Regions from separate parts of the Homo sapiens genome. Here region 1 is linked to region 2. Evidence: fine-mapped expression QTL. A gene starts in region 2. The other region holds a variant in brackets. All regions are shown on one strand. Distances are between the middles of the regions.

What was found.
Region 1: its variant is fine-mapped to the expression of CEACAM21 in whole blood (INTERVAL, PIP above 0.99).

The regions. Positions count from the first base shown.
Region 1 is chr19:41,423,564-41,431,886 of GRCh38, reverse strand. BCKDHA (branched chain keto acid dehydrogenase E1 subunit alpha) reads right to left here. Exons shown (of 9, transcript NM_000709.4): 9 at 6,885-7,449. The coding sequence ends at 7,279. B3GNT8 (UDP-GlcNAc:betaGal beta-1,3-N-acetylglucosaminyltransferase 8) reads left to right here and starts at 4,513. Exons shown (of 2, transcript NM_001385648.2): 1 at 4,513-4,603; 2 at 5,077-6,528. The coding sequence starts at 5,109. The coding sequence ends at 6,302. DMAC2 (distal membrane arm assembly component 2) reads left to right here. Exons shown (of 6, transcript NM_018035.3): 6 at 1-569. RefSeq lists an enhancer at 1-806 and silencers at 4,193-4,342, 4,363-4,472. The variant G/A (reference allele first, on the strand shown) is at 4,125.
Region 2 is chr19:41,571,576-41,579,898 of GRCh38, reverse strand. It overlaps CEACAM21 (CEA cell adhesion molecule 21), which reads right to left and starts at 3,733. Exons shown (of 7, transcript NM_001098506.4): 1 at 3,561-3,733; 2 at 2,340-2,699; 3 at 271-546. The coding sequence starts at 3,624.

The sequences.
Region 1 (8,323 bases), 150 kb after region 2:
ACCCTGACTGACACAGGGGCTACTACTGACACTTTACAGGGATGGTTCTCCCCCGTGCAGGGCCGCTGTGCCCACTGCAGGACATGCAGCATCCTTCGCCCCACTCCACTCACTAAAGGCCAGCGCACCCCAGGCCCCATAGTATTGCTGGTTATGGATTTATTGACTTTATGTTCCAAATTCAGCTTTTTCAGTTGGCTGTTTTTTGAAAGGGGATAAGCTTTGTCAGTAGAGGGCACCAAACAGGCATTATAGGAGGAAAGGCGCCTCCTTCGTGGTTCTTGTTGGTTGTGCTTCTGCCTCTGGACGCCGCAGTGCATGTGGCTTCCCCAGCACCCAGCTCCTGAAGCACCAGGCGGTCAGCAGCTGCCCTTGGCACCCTCCAGCCCTCAGAAGTTGCGTAGGAGACACAGCGCCTCCACTGAGGCACCTCTCTGGGAATAACGTTCCCCAGCACCCCAAATGGATTTCCAGTCAATTCAGAAGCATTTTACCAGTGAAGCCCTCATTATTCCAGTTCACTGTTAAAGCCAGTAATTCTCTATATTAAACTTTCCCTGTTCAAGTTACTCTGTGGTTTTTCTCTCCTGACTGCATCCTGATGGATATAGAGTTGATACCTGGAGTGTCCCAGGAGATGACTCTTAAGATAGGATTCCAGGATTGGTTTGGTTGTGCCTTTGGGCTTGGGCGCCGCGCTGAGCTCTTGCTGATGGGAAACAGGATGCCAGAGGCCCATGGCATGCAATGGCATCATAATCCCACAAGTGCCTGTGGTTGACGGAGATGAGGGACCAACTGAAGCACGTGCCTTGGGACCCCCTGTGGCTGCTGTGCTCAACAGCTGTGCTAGTTGTGCCAATTCTGAAGACCAGGGTATTGGATGGATTCTCCAGAGTGCCCTTGAGTGCCCACAGACAGTGACAAGCTTGGGTCCGCTAACTCAGCTCAAGTCACAGTCTGAGAACTAGACAGCTTTCATGACAGCCCCCAGATTTTTTGTTTGTTTGTTTTTGAGACAGTCTTGCTATGTCACCCAGGCTGGAGTGCAGTAGTGTGATCTCTCGGCTCACTGCAACCTCCACCTCCCGGGTTCAAGCGATTTTCCTGCCTTAGCTTACCGAGTAGCTGGGATTACAGGCGTGTACCACCACGCCAGGCGAATTTTTGTGTTTTTAGTAGAGACAGGGTTTTGCCATGTTGGCCATGCTGGTCTCAAACTCCTGGCCTCAGGTGATCCACCCACCTCAGCCTCCCAAAGTGCTGGGATTACAGGTGTGAGCCACCATGCCCGGCCCAAAAGTTTTTACTTCTTTGGAATGGGGTCATCTAATTGGACCCAGAGTAAACAGGCGATCTTGAACCCCCAAGTCACTCCAAGCGAGTGACTTATCAGCATCTGAGGAACCTACCAGCCTTCCTGTGCTTAGAAACCTTGTGATGTGGCCAGGCACGGTGGCTCACGCCTGTAATCCCAGCACTTTGGGAGGCCAAGGCAGGCGGATCATGAGGTCAGGAGTTCAAAACCAGCCTGGCCAACATAGTAAAACCCCATCTCTACTAAAAATGCAAAAAATTAGCCAGGCGTGGTGGCGAGCACCTGTAATCCTAGTTACTCGGAAGGCTGAACCCTCCCGAGTAGGAGGATCTCTTGAACCCAGGAGGCGGAGAGGTTGCAGTGAGCCGAGATTGCACCACTGCACACCAGCCTTGGCGACAGTGCAAGACTCCATCTCAAAAAAAAAAACAGAGGCCGGGTGCAGTGCCTCATGCCTGTAATCCCAGCACTTTGGGAGGCCGAGGCGGGTGGATCACAAGGTCAGGAGATGAAGACCATCCTGCCTAAGTACTCTACTTTAGTAGAAATAGTGAAACCCTGTCTCTACTAAAAATACAAAAACATTAGCCGGGCATGGTGGCGGGCGTCTGTAGTCCCAGCTACTTGAGAGGCTGAGGCAGGAGAATGGCGTGAACCTGGGAGGTGAGGCTTGCAGTGAGCGGAGATCATGCCACTGCACTCCAACCTGGGTGACAGAGTGAGACTCCGTCTCAAAAAAAAAACCTTGTGATGACCTCACCAGGGGCAGACACCTTGAAAGTGGTCGTCCTTTTTTTTTTTTTTTTTTTTTTGATTAGCGGTAAGATCTCACTATGTTGCCCAGGCTGGTCTTGAACTCCTGGAAAGTGATCCTTCCCTCTTGGCCTCCCAGAGTATTGGGATTACAGGGGTGAGCCACTGTCCCACCACAGTTTTTTTTTTCTTATGGCCAGCTCTTATACAGAAATAACAGATACACCCCATTCTTCTTAAGACTCACCACAGCGCCCCTTGCTGCCTCTAGACCCATAAATACCTAGGGTGAAATCAGCTTGCTCCAGGTGAACAGGTGCCAGCTAGGACCTAGGCGGGAGCAGCTTTTACACTATAAGAATGACAAGGCTTCGCAAATATACAGAGTCAGAAACTTGGGGAATGTGTGCAGAAGGGGATTTTAAGGATGTTACACCAATGAGGGTGGATGTAACACTAGCTCAGGCCAAATTTACTGGCATGAGTGCGCTTTCTAGAGCTTCTGGATTTCATGGGTTACCTTGTGCAGCTGGACGTAGTTCTAATAGCTTGCTTGGGTGCCTAACCGGAACTTGGATCCAACAGTGGCCTAAAGTTAATGAGGCAGAGAGACCAGAACTGCCCTAGCATAAGATGGGTGAGGGGAGTCCCAAGGCTTGGGGAGACAGAAGTGTTGGATTGGAATGATCGTGTTCCACCAGCATGTCCACCCTCCAACCATGTTCCCCAAGAAGGCACCCCTTAGTGGCCAATCCCATGAGAGTTAATCATTCTGTATATTGAACTTTCCCTATTCCCATTCCTGTGTGGTTTCTCTCTCCTGATTGGACCCGGACTGAGGCACATGGCAAAGGCAAAAAGAAAGGCACCTTGTGAAGCTTCCTAATGCTTCCAGGAGGAGCAGCACCCCCTGCCCCCAGAAGCTAGATGAGCTCAGGGGGCCTGGAGTCCCTCTCCCCCAGCCCCAGAGTGGAGTGGGCTTGCAGACTCCCTCAGGAGGTGCTCGGGCCCCTGCCCCCAGCCCCTAGCTGTCATTTCCCACTCCAACTATTATTCCATTAATATTCACCACTTCCTCCCCACTCTCTTCCTCCAGCTGTTCCCACAGGCTCCATTATTCAAACTTTGGGGGAGGAAATCAGGGCTGGACAGATCATCAACTGCTGCTGCTGACAGACTGTGTTCCTGCCATGATGGGGACAGGCCTGCCCCAAACCAGGGTGGAGTGAAGGGGTCAGCCCAGGCTTAGTGGGAGCCCCTTAGTCTTACCCCATGTCTTGGGAGGTCTTCAGAGAGCTGATGCAGTCCCAACAGCAGGGGCCCCTGGAGGGCAGGGATGCAAACACAGGCAGACACCCCCTCCTGCCCCAAGGGGCTGGATGTGAGTGTTCCTGGAGTCACAGTGCCGCTGGGGGAGGGGAGGGGCCCGGGGTGAGGCTGGCTCCAGGCCGGAGGTTGGGGGTAAGGTAGGAACAGATTCCCACGCTGCTGGGCAGGCAGCCCGGGTGCCGAGAGGGATGGAGGAGGTACAGGGGATCAGCTTAGCTCCCGGGGTTCCCCGTGGGCCCCACCCCGTCACCCTCTATTGCCCTTGAAGCTCCAGTCTTTTCCTCTCCTGTTCTTCCCCTTGGCTCCCTCTCCGCCTCTGCCTGGGTCTGGCTCGGAAGCCTGAGTCCCTCCCCTCTGCCCTCCACCTGCCTCTCTCAACCTCTCTTTCCCCATGAGCACCCCACAGGGCTTCCGCAACCCCTTATCTTTCTCGCCATCTCCATTTCCCTCCCCCTCTCCCTCCTGGCCACCTTCCCACTTGCCCGTCTTCTCTCTCTCTCCCCCTCAGCTCTCTCCATCGCCTGTCTCACCCCAGTTCTCCTCTCTCTGCTCCCTGGCCGTCTCTTCCCTCTCCACAATGTCTCTGTCTCTCCTTCTCCTCACCAGCCCCGTTCCCCCCACCTCACCCTGACTGGGCAGCAACAACAAACATCCCTCTGGCAGGCCCGCCGATCCCTTCCCACTCAGCACATTCACTGCCGCCTCCTGGCCATGGGTGCAGCCG[G/A]GCGCCAGCCTCTCAGCCTCCCCATCTCTGCCTCAGTGGGACCCTGCCTCGCCCTGGTCACTCTAACACTCCCCAGCCCAGGCCCAGCCTTCAGCCCCACCCTCCCTGGCACCCCCTGGCCCTGGTTCTCCCCTCCCAGGCCTCACAAAGCCCCCGTCTTGTTTCTGTGGCTGCCCCCTGCACCCTTCCCAGCTGTCTCACCAGAAACCAGCCCTAACACGCCAGAGCCCCATCTCTCAGGTCGGCCTCCTGCCCTCCTCCCTCCCTCCCTCCCTCCCTCTCTCCTGCCTCAGCCCCGCCCCGGCCCCTGGGGCCCTCCCTGCTCCCGCTCCACTCCCCTCCCCGCCCCTCTGGACTGGCTGGGCAGGGCTGGGCCCCGCCGGTCGACAACACAGGGGCTGGGGCAGGCAGATCAGAGGGAGCTGAGGGAGGCCTGACCTGAGGCCGGCACCCGGAGCTGGCGGGAGCCAGACCCAGAGGTAAAAAAGCATGGGATCCCTGGTTCCCCAGTCCCTGGGGTTGGGGTGTTGCGGGAGGCAGGCTGGGTTTCTAACCCCAGGGAGCTAGGAATCCCGCTCCTGATTTCCTGGTGAGGGCAATAAATGGAGGGAGAGGGAGGAGATAGACGGCAAGGTCCCTTGTCCTGGATGGAGACAGGGAAGAGGTAGACCCTTGGGCTTTTAGGAAGGTGGAAGCATTTGGACGGAGTGGGAAGAACAGGGTGCTGGTACGGGATTGGAATGGGGGACTCCTAGGTCTAGGAATAAGGACCAACGAGGTCCCTGGGTCAGGGGAGCTGTTTAGGATCTGGGACCGAGAGAATCTGTTATGGGGGTTGGCGGGGACTATGGGAGATTGTGAAGCTGTCTGCCTGGGGCCTGGCTGGGCCCTCTCTGGAGGCCCATCCCCACACCCCAATGGCCTCCGTGGCTCCCCTGTGGCTCCCTTGTAGCTCCCGCGGCCGCCCCTTCCCTGGGCCGGGTCATGCGCTGCCCCAAGTGCCTTCTCTGCCTGTCAGCACTGCTCACACTCCTGGGCCTCAAAGTGTACATCGAGTGGACATCCGAGTCCCGGCTCAGCAAGGCCTACCCCAGCCCTCGGGGCACCCCGCCAAGCCCCACGCCAGCCAACCCTGAGCCCACCCTACCTGCCAACCTCTCCACCCGCCTGGGCCAGACTATCCCGCTGCCCTTTGCTTACTGGAACCAGCAGCAGTGGCGGCTGGGGTCCCTGCCCAGTGGGGACAGCACTGAAACGGGGGGCTGCCAGGCTTGGGGGGCCGCCGCCGCCACCGAGATCCCTGACTTCGCCTCCTACCCCAAGGACCTCCGCCGCTTCTTGCTGTCAGCAGCCTGCCGGAGCTTCCCACAGTGGCTGCCTGGAGGTGGTGGCAGCCAAGTCTCCAGCTGCTCAGATACTGATGTCCCCTACCTGCTGTTGGCCGTCAAGTCAGAACCAGGGCGCTTTGCAGAACGACAGGCCGTGAGAGAGACGTGGGGCAGTCCAGCTCCAGGGATCCGGCTGCTCTTCCTGCTAGGGTCTCCGGTGGGTGAGGCGGGGCCTGACCTAGACTCACTAGTGGCCTGGGAGAGCCGTCGCTACAGTGACCTGCTGCTCTGGGACTTCCTCGACGTCCCATTCAACCAGACGCTCAAAGACCTGCTGCTGCTGGCCTGGCTGGGCCGCCACTGCCCCACCGTGAGTTTTGTCTTGCGAGCTCAGGACGATGCCTTTGTACACACCCCTGCCCTGCTGGCTCACCTGCGGGCCCTGCCACCTGCCTCGGCCCGAAGCCTCTACCTGGGTGAGGTCTTTACCCAGGCCATGCCTCTCCGGAAGCCAGGAGGACCCTTCTATGTGCCCGAGTCCTTCTTCGAAGGTGGCTACCCAGCCTATGCAAGCGGGGGTGGCTACGTCATTGCCGGGCGCCTGGCACCCTGGCTGCTGCGGGCGGCAGCCCGTGTGGCACCCTTCCCCTTTGAGGACGTCTACACTGGCCTTTGCATCCGAGCCCTGGGCCTGGTGCCCCAGGCCCACCCAGGCTTCCTCACAGCCTGGCCAGCAGACCGCACTGCGGACCACTGTGCTTTCCGCAACCTGCTGCTGGTACGGCCCCTGGGCCCCCAGGCCAGCATTCGGCTCTGGAAACAACTGCAAGACCCAAGGCTCCAGTGCTGACTCTCATTGGGGAGGGCGGAGGTGCTGACCTGGCCTGGGCCTCTGGGGCCGGCCCCTGGCTCAGCCCCTCCTTCCAGGTCTTGATGGGAGGGAGGAGGGCCCAGAAGCTGGACAACTTAAGCCACTCCTTGGCCTCCCCCAGCCAGGGGCCTGGGCAGGAAAGATGGGGTGGTGGACTGTTTTTGCCTACTTTTTGTTTTTGAAAAACATGCACTCCCCACTCTGAGGCCTGGGGTTGTTTTTGCATCTGTGGGGCCCTGGAGTGGTGGGGAGCAGGGCTTGGCCACACCCTGACCTTCATCCTGGACGCTCCCCTGCACCCCTGCTGGGCAGGGCTAGCTCCACTGGGCTCCCCATCACTCTGCTGGACAGCAGGCTTCTCCCATTCTGTGAGAGAGCAGGAGACCATCTCTGGAGGACCCCCCCACCCCCATCCTGTCTGCTGAAGTTAACCTTCCAGCTTGCGCAAGCTTCCGGGGGAAGTAGGTATCTCAAGAGCCTTGACCTTATTTATCTAAGGTGGAGAAGCTGGGGGTGGCCTCAAATCACCCCCAAACTCCAGGAAACAAAGACCAGAGGTGGTAGAGAGCCAGGCGCAGAGATGCAGTTTATTCGTGACCTCTGCTGGCCACTCGCACCTGCGCAAGTTCCACAGGCTGACCTGCCATGTCCACCCCATGCCCAGAGGGGCTTCTAGTCCTGAATGTGCCCTCACCCAGCCCCTGGGAGAAGGCACTGTAACAACAGGTGAAGAGGGGGCTGACGGAGCCTCAGCAACTGCTGCAGATGCTGTCCCCTGACAATGTAACAGCCGGGAGGAGCAGGGGTGAAGAGTGGCAGCCGCCCTGGCCGCTGAGTATTTTAGAGGGAGCTGACTGGGGAAGACAGTGGTGTGCTGTCAGGTCCCCCTGCTCCCCTTAGAGTGGGGCTACCTCTCGGGGTAGCTGAGGATGGGTGGGGGTGGGCTGAGCAGGTCTCACTTATCGAAGTGATCCAGTGGGTAGTGCTCCCCGTAGGTCTGCAGGTGGCGGGCCAGAGACTCCTGCTGCTTGCGGAGCTGGGCGGGCATCTCCTGATACACGTCTGAGAAGAGTAGGTTGGGGTTGGGTTTGGGCTTCCGCTCGGCCTGCTCAAAGGCCTCCATCACCTGTGGGGACATGGGGCAGTGGGCAGGCTAGCCGGCCTCCCATGCAGGACCCTGCTTCCTCCTGCGGGGCCTTGGCAAGGAATTAACCACTCCAAGCCTTTGTGTTCCCACCTCGACAATGGAAATGATTATCCTAGCAGAAGTGTAATGAAAACCCTCAAATCCCAGCAGGGATCAGGTGCTATCCAAGTGTGTGGAATCATTTAAGGCTTTCAGCAGCCCTAAGAGGTAGACAGCTAAGCAATGAGGAAACTGAGGCACAGAGAAGGGCAGGGACAGGACACACGGTGCTGCCCTATGCCGGGTGCTGCCCTCACCACTGGGCTGCACGGGCCCTGGGTCCTAATGACCGGGCCAGGGAGGGTGGCACACTGACTCTGGGCAGGGCATGTACACTCCACCACGGTTTGCCACCTAATCCTCAAACCAGCTTTTTTTTTTTTTTAAGAGATAGTCTTGCTCTGTTGCCCAGGCTGGAGTGCAGTGGCGCCATCTCCAATCACTGCAAGTTCCACCTCCCGGGTTCAAGCGATTCTTCTGCCTCACCTTCCTGAGTAGCTGGGACTACAGGCACGCACCACCACGCCTGGCTAATTTTTTTTTTTGAGATGGAGTCTTGCTCTCGTTGCCCAGGCTGGAGTGCAATGGTACGATCTCAGCTCACTGCAACCTCTACCTCCCAGGTTCAAGCAATTCTCCTGCCTCGGCCTCCCAAGTAGCTGGGATTACAGGCACCCGGCACCATGCCCGGCTAATTTTTGTATTTTTATTAGAGACGAGGTTTCACCATGTTGGCCAGGCTGGTCTCAAACTCCCGACCTCAGGTGATCTGTCCGCCTTGGCCTCCCAAAGTGCTGGGATTACAGGCGTGAGC
Region 2 (8,323 bases):
AACCACCCTGAGGTCCAGGTGTTTGTAACAATTCTACAGATGAGGAAACTGAGGCCCAGGAGGTTGAGTGTCTTGCCCAAGGTCAAATACCTGGTACCTATTGTAACCAGGATGATAACTGGATGAGTCTAATCCCTGAGTTCTTACCCACATTGCTCCCCAGGCTCTGAAGGAATCTCATCCTTCTCATTCCGTGTATCATTTTACACCCCCCCTCCCTCCTAGGAAAATATACAAGGAAAGGAGTGAGAGGGGCCGAGGGTCACTCACATTTTACAGTCAGCTTGAGGGGGTCGCTCCTGTTGGAGCTGACTGGGTTGGAGACCTCACACTGATACTCCCCAGCGTCCTCCTGCCTGATGGGGTCTATGGTGAGCACATGGTTAAACCAGGACAGCTTCATCCTCTTCGTGACCTGCAGACGCTGGTTGTTGAAAATCCACTGGAAAGAGGTTCCAGTGTTATTTGTGTGGCAGGTCAGGACCACGGAGCCCTTCTCTGTGACTGTGGTGCTGCTGGCTTGGATGGAGGGCTGAGCCACTGACTCTGTGGATAGAGTGACCAACAGAAAGTGTCTTGGGGCCATGCTGCATCCTCAGAGATCTCAGAGTCAAATTTAGAACATTCTCCTGTGAATAAAGGAGAAAGATGAAGGACAGGGAGGAGCAGAGAGAACCAGAGACACCCATAGCAGCGAGCAGTAGGGACTACAGTGACCTCAGAGACCCCAGGGACCAGGAGGACCCAGCTGCCTCAGACCAGGACCAGGGAGCCCTGAAAACCCTCCCACAGATGAGCGGCCCCAGAGTCACATGAGATGCAATACCTGGGGTGGCTTTAGGAGCAGGCAGTCAGAGAAATGGAACATGGGTCTCAGCCCCTAAGGGACAAGGAAGAGGTGTGGCCAGCTCCTCCTAGGATCCTACATCCAGGACCCAGTCTGTAAAGAGGTTATGATTATTCCTTTCTTTTTTCATTAATTCCCTCCCTCCTTCATCAGAGAACTACTGAGTGTGTGTCTCAGTTGGGCCTTGTGCAGGTACAGGGTGTAGTGGGAAGAGAAAGCTGAGTCCTTTCCTTCATCCTCCCATGGGAGTGACATCAACAAATCAAGAAATTCATGATTTCACGTCCAGTGAGGGAAGGAATGTGGATCTGATGGGAGAGGCTTGGACAATCCTGGCATTGAGTCTGATAGTTGAGACAGGTGATTTCGTTCTAAGTAAAAACTGACTAATTCTCCATTTGCCCGTCATTCCTCAGACCAGAATCTCCCTCTCTGAGCTGAGGATGCCCAAGAAGAAAGGAGCTGAACCAACATCTGGTCCTGGGGTCCACAGATGCCCCACGGTGGTGGCCACGACCAGATTCTGGGCTGCAGACACACGGTGGTGTGACGTTGAGCACTGACAGCCTGTGTGATGCTGATGCAATTTCTCTTTAATAAAATGGGGTACATGTCAATGGTCCCTGGCTTGCCATCCTCTCTGTAAATTAACATTAAAATATTTACAATTACCTGACCTAAAGCTTGGCACAGAATAGCTCCAAATAAACATCATCTATTATTATTTTACTCCAAAAAAAAAAAAAAAGAGTTCTCTGGGCCTGATTCCTGGTGGAGAAGGAGCGGTCCAGAGTGTCTTTTCTCTGCTTTCCCTCCTCCTGAGGACAGTGCACTTCCCGGGACATCTTTTAAGTTTCCCATCCAGTTTAATGGCCTGGGAAGTTTGTTTGTCTGTCCTCTCCACTCTGACTCTCAGGTGAAAGATGAGGCTCTGCCCTTGCCCAGATGGGGCTCTGGGGGCTGAGCCCTGCCTGGTGACCAGCTCTAGGAACCACGGCCCTGGGACAGCTGGTAAATCCTTGCTCACAATCAGCCCTGCCCAGGAAGCCACAACCCAGCCCTGGCACAGGCTCCCCAGGGTCATCTGGAGTCAGGATCTTGGGACAGGGGCCTGGGGCAGGGGCTTCAAGGGCTGAGCTTCTCTCAGAGGATCCTCAGGCCAGGCCCTGACTGAGTCCTATAAGATCTTTCTCAGGTCATGTCTATGAGGAGGAGGCCAAGGGGGGTTGGACTGAGACTGATTTTCCCCCGCTGCATCTCCCGCATCAGACTATCCTTCTTGCTGTAGGGAATTTCCACGGAGTCCGGATAAGGGAAAGGAATTCTGATCTGTTATAGTTTGTCTCCCCTGGGTGTGTCCTGCACTAAATGCCCAAACCCCAACATGGGACGTAATGCAGAGGGGGATGCAGGCACAGCCCAGGCCTGACAATCCTGCGTATGTGAAGCAGAACTGACCCCCAACACCCAGAGGCACGGAGGAATCACTCACCGTATACACGGAGATGGTGAGATGCCTGTTCAATCTGAGAATTTCTGTATGTGACTTGTAGGTTGTAGTATCCCGTGTCCTCTAGGGTGACGTTCTGGAAATGCAGATCTCCACTGGGTGATATTGTCTCTCGACCGCTGTATGCAGGCCCTGGAGTCCTAACGTGAGTGTCTATTACATATGCTGCGATTAGCTGGTTGGGCTCCACCGTTTTCCCTTTGTACCAGCCATAGCTGTAAAGATTCTCGGGCAGATAAACCACAGAGAGATGAACATTCTCCCCTTCAGCAACTTCAAAGGGCGCTGATGCAATAAAGAGCCAGGCAGTGGTGGGTGCGTTCCAGAAAGTTAAAAGTGAGGCTAGGAAAGGGAGAGAATATCAGTCAATATTTGACCTATGCATTGGCATGGAAAGACGGGGTCCTGGGTGCAGGTCTCTTCACCCCTCAGCCTTAGAGGGTGTGTGTGTGTGTGTGTGTCCTACTGGGTCAAAGTCAGCAGCATGACCCTCATTCCTTCAGTACCTCTGACCTTGGCATTTCCTTGTGTGAACCCTCTTTCCCAGGGGTCTGCATGGTTCCCTCCCCACTGCCTTCAGTTCCTACTCACACAAGGGAATCCCTGGGAGACTTCTTTCGTGAAGCCTCCTCTAGAGACCCTGGGTCTTCCCTTTCTGACCTTTCCCAGCTCTGTTCCCTCCAGGGCTCTTGTCAGCACCTGACCTCACATTCTAGATCTCTTTGGGTGTCTGTCTTCCCCCCCATGAGATTGTGAGCTCTGTGAGGGCATGGACTTGAGTGATGTTAGTTGCACCCCAGTGCCTGGGACAGGCTGCAGACTCCTGTGGATGAGTTCATGAGCGTTCCCAGGGCCTTCCATATCCTGGGGTTTATTTGCTAATGTCTGAGGTTGGCAGATGAAGACAGAGTTTCATGCCCTGGTGGTGTTTTTATTTAAATTGTCACTGTGATATAGTTTTACTATCATTTTCAAAGTGTAGTGGCCACTGACAATGAACTTGAAAACATGGACCAACTGAGATTGTTTTGCCCCTTGGCAATTCCAGTTCACTTAGATTTTTTGGTTCTCCTTAGACGCTCTCTCCCCTGAGTCTCTAACAAAAGCCCTCTGTCTCCTCTCAGAGCCCCATCCTCCCCAGGAGACCCCAGCCAGTCTCTGTGCTCCCTCCTCCCACCCACTCCCAGGGAGTCCTCCCCTCACCTGTGAGCAAGAGCCCCTGCCAGGGGATGCATTCTCTGTGGGGACAAGCTGAGGGGGGCCCCATGGTCTCTGCTGCCTGCTCTGTCCTCCTCTGTGGAGAGGAGCTTGGGCTCCAGGAACGCTCTAGACAGGGTTACTGTGACTGTTGTCTCTGCTGTCCTTCCTTCCTCTATGCTGAGCTTCCTCTCAGGCAGGAGCACTTCCCGTTTATGGGCAAGGGCGGGGCTCTGCCTACAATGTCTCTCTGTCCCCTCCCCTCTCAGTCCTGCCTCCCTTGTCCCTCCTTTCTCCTTCCTTTTTGCCTATATTTGGTTCCCTAGGCAAAACTTTGAGAAGCAACGCTGATGGGGTCCTCATAACAGGACGACCCACTCTCCCCAGTACTGACCTCTGCTGTGTTCTGGCCTTGGTTCTGTCACAGCCGGTAGATTATTTCCCTTTGTGACACACAAAACCAGCTGGGCCCTGGGTCTCCTCATGCTCTCCAGTGCTCCAGGAAGGCAGAATGATGCCCAGCAGGAAAGTGACAGAGGTGGCTCTGGGGGCTAGAAAGGGGCTCACTGGGTGATGGCTGGGAAGGACCCACCCGCTATCTTCAGTGTCACCAGCCTGGCCTCTGACCCAGGGACAGAGACCCAGGCCTGGAGGTCTCGGGAGGATCCCCAGCTCCTAGGTGTGGAGGGAGGTGTCCTGTGTGTCCTGGGAAGAGAGGACTTTGATGGAAGGAGGTGGGAGGCTCTGGGTTCTGCTGTCCTTGGTGAAGGTTTCAGGGGGACCCTCTCCGTGTCTGGGGTCTGTGCCCCCAGCTTAACTCTCATTCTCTTTGCAAATACATATATTTTGTGGATCTGCAGTTGCCTGAACTGTCTCATGTCCCTAAATCTTTGTATCCCTTTTTACAGAAGGTCAGGAAGGGTGTGTACATGAGTATGAGGACTATCTGATCAGGGCGAGTGTTTGTTTCCCAAAGATCTCTTTAGATATGGTATAATACATAAGATAAATGTACTGAATTAGCAATTTTAAGTGTAGAATTAAATGATACTAATTCTATTCACAATGTTGTACAACCATCACCATAATTTTTTACCAGAAAATCTTCATTATACCAAATGGAAACTTCATACTTTTAATCAATAACTCCCCACTTCCCCCTGCCCCACCCACTGGTAGCCTCTGATACTATCAATCTCTGTGAATTTGCCTAGTTTACATGTCTCATATAATAAGGAATTATATACGTGTATTATTTTTTTCTGGATTATTTCTCTTAGGGTAACACTTTTAAGATTCATCCACGTCGTAGCATATATTACAGCTTCTTTCCTATTTATGGCTGAGTAATATCCCAATATATGTTTATACCTCAATTTTAATTCATTCATCTCTTAATGGACATGTGGGTGGTTTCCACATTTTTGCTATTGTGAAAACCGCTGCAATGAACTTACACTTGGAAGTATCTGTTTGGGTTTCTGTGTTCATTTCTTTGGGGGTACATATAGGAGTATAAATATGGGGTCATGTGGTAGTTCTATGTTTAAGTTTTTGAGAAACAGCCAAACTGTTTTCCAGTTTGCTGTGCTATTTTATATTCCCATCAGCAATATACGAGGGTTCCATTTTCTCTACATTCTTGTAAACACTTACTATTTAATATTTTTTAAAACTTATAGCCATTCTAGTAGGTGTGAAGTGATAGCTCATTGCAGTTTTGATTTTCATTTCCCTGGTGGCTGATGAAGTTGAGCATTTTTTCATGTATTTGCTGACAATTTTAATATTTTTTAGAGAACTATTTATTCAAATCATTTGCTGTTTAAAAAAAATGGGTTATCTTTTTATTATTCAGTTGTAATAGTTCTTTATATATTTTAGATACAAGTCCCTTATGGGGTACATGATTTGCAAAATTTTTCTCATATTCTGTGTCTTCTCACTTTCTTCATGGTGTTCTTTGAAGCACAAACATTTTTAACTTTGATGAAGTTCACTTATCTATTTTTAATTTTGTTACTTATGCTCTTGATGTCATATTGAAGAAACCATTGCCCAATCCAAGATCATTAAGTTTTACTCCTATATGTTCTTCTAATGGTTTGATAAGTTTTGCTATTCCATTTAGGTTTTTGAAACATTTTGAGTTAACTTTTGTATGGGCTGTGAGGTAGGGGTCTAACTACACTATCTCGCATGTGGTTATCCAGTTGTTCCAGCACAATATGAAGAGGCTACCATTCTTTCCCCATTGAGGAATCTTGGCACCCATGTCAAAAACCAATGGGCTGTAATGGTGAGGGTTTATTTCTGGACTCTTGATTCTATTCCATTGATCTCTATGTGCATTCTTGTGCCAGAAGCACACTGTTTTAATGATTGTAGTGTTTTAGTAAGTTTTCAAATTAGGAAGTGAGTCCTCCAATTTTTTTTTCCAGATTGTTTTGGCCATTCTGGGGTGACTTTTAAAAAAGATGTAGTTCAATGGTTCTCAAAGCAGGAGTGGTTCAGCTCTCCTTTTTTGGCAGTCTGGAGACCTTTTTAGGACCTTAATCTAAGTAGATAAATTATTCCCACTTTCTTTTCTGAGTTGCTATGTTACAGTGTATATTGACACCCATGAAATAATTGAGAGACCCTGGAAGTGCTTGCCTACATAGTGAGGGACAATTAGTTCCATGATCATGGGCACAGAAGATTTTGTTTTGGGAAACAATTTTGTTGGTGGAGTTATATTCATGCTTACTCTTTTATTTGTCTTCATAGCCTGCATCTCCTTCAGACTTCATATCTGTTTATTTTCTTGTTTGTCCTCTGGGGTTTGGGTGTTGGGTGACCAGTCAGCTGGAGCTGGAGGAGGTGCTTAGCAAGGCAGTGACCCTGGTTGGGAGGAGCAGGGCTCAGCAGGGTGAAAGTAGCTGGGCCTTGAGTCAGGAGTGGCATCTGGAAGGCCTGACTGTAAGGGTCAGAAGGGCCAGCAGGTGGGTGTCCTAGGCACAAACGGTGGCTGCTGCTGTGGACTGGAGGAAGGTAAGAGGCCCCGAGTATTCCATGTTCTTACTGGCTCCCCAACTGAGGATTCCTCTCCTGGGCTGGTGCTGTCCTGCAGCAGGGAGGGGTTAGACAGGGACGGCTGCACATCAGGCCGGAGTCCATGTCATCCTCTTAGGCACTGTCACTACAGATTGAGGATTCTGTTCATAAGCCAAGCCTTTGCACAAGGAAGGGACCCGGGCTCTCAAGGAAGAGCAGCTCCTGGTCAGACCTCCATCTCCTTCTCTCTCATTGCCTGAGGCCTCAAGCTTGGTCTACCTGGCACAGGGGTCTGGATCCTCCTCCCAGGGTTGGGGTCTTACTGAGCTGGGCACCTGCAGGTGGGAGAAGATCTGGAGGGGCCCCATCTGCCTTCACCAGATTGATGTTGAGGGTCCCTGAGTCCTGCACCACTATCAGGTGCTGAGCAACTTCCAGTGTCAGTGACAACCACCCCATGGTGGAAGCAGAACCACCTCGTGAGAAAGCACCTCCAAGCCTCAGTGCTTGCCATGTGTGGGAATTTGCTGGTTTCAGTTGGGGGCATGTTGGTGGGTGGTCATGAATTCAGGGCCGGATTCTATGCTCACAGTGCACATGCTGGATGTGGTACAGACCCCAGGCAGGGCTCAGTGGGGTGGTTTTGGGTGTGCACAGGTATCTTTTCTGGAGGAGCTGGTGGTGATTTGGCTCCCAGAAGTTCCTGAGCTCTGCAGACTCACCAAGCACTCAATATTTGAGTGAACATTGGGCGAGAGAGCAGAAGGTAAGTGTCAGGGCATCGGGGTTGGTGCCTCTGGGAAGAGGAGGAACATTCTGGGAACAAAGCTCTCCCCCGGCTTACAGGGAGCTTCCCATCGCTCCTGCCTTGAGGATCAGGGAAACTAGGGCCTCTGCTCTTCCAGGGGCTGCTTGCAGGCAGTTTGCTCTGGGAGGGGGTGACCCAGGAGTTGCCTCTCATTTTGCATTTGAGATTTAAAAGGAGAAGGGACAGTATATCTTGCCAGGTCACAAAAATTACAGGCATCATATTGACTGAAGGGCACTCCTGTCATCATTGCAATATACCAGAATGGTCTTTTAAAAAAATAAGTGATTTAGGTTTACCAGCAACTGTAATGCTTGTTTTATTCTTCTAGTTCACCGTTAATGTCACTTTTGTAGTTTTAGCACTGGCAATGTTGATTTTATGTTGACTCTGATGATTTTAAGCTTTCATTTGTTCACATAGAGATCATCTTCTTTCTGAATATTAATGCATTTTTTCTCTATTTCTACTGGTTATTCCTGTACATAGAGTAGAGAATCACTTTTCCCAAGGAGGTGGAAAGCTTCTGACTACCAAAAAAAAAAAAAAGTGTCAAAATGCTTTAAAGTCAGTAACTTAAAGATCAAATCCAAGAGTGGGCAACAGATTCTGCCCAGGGTCTGAAAGGTGGAGAGGTGACTGGTGAGGATGTTTAAAAGACCTCTCCTCTCTACTCCCTAAATGGGGGCCATCCAGTGTTCTTGAGGTTCAGAGAAGGCCCAGGGCTGGGGCAGCAGGGCACTGTCAGCTCCCAGCTCCCAGGGGCCAGGAGTAAGACCCCAACACTGTCCAGACACTGATTGCATTCATTTTGGGGGAGAGTAGATTCTTATTTAAAGAATAATACAAAAGTCTACAAATTTGAACATAAACAGAAATTCCTTTGCTACAATTTTCCCCTTAATAAGACATTCCTTCCTAATGA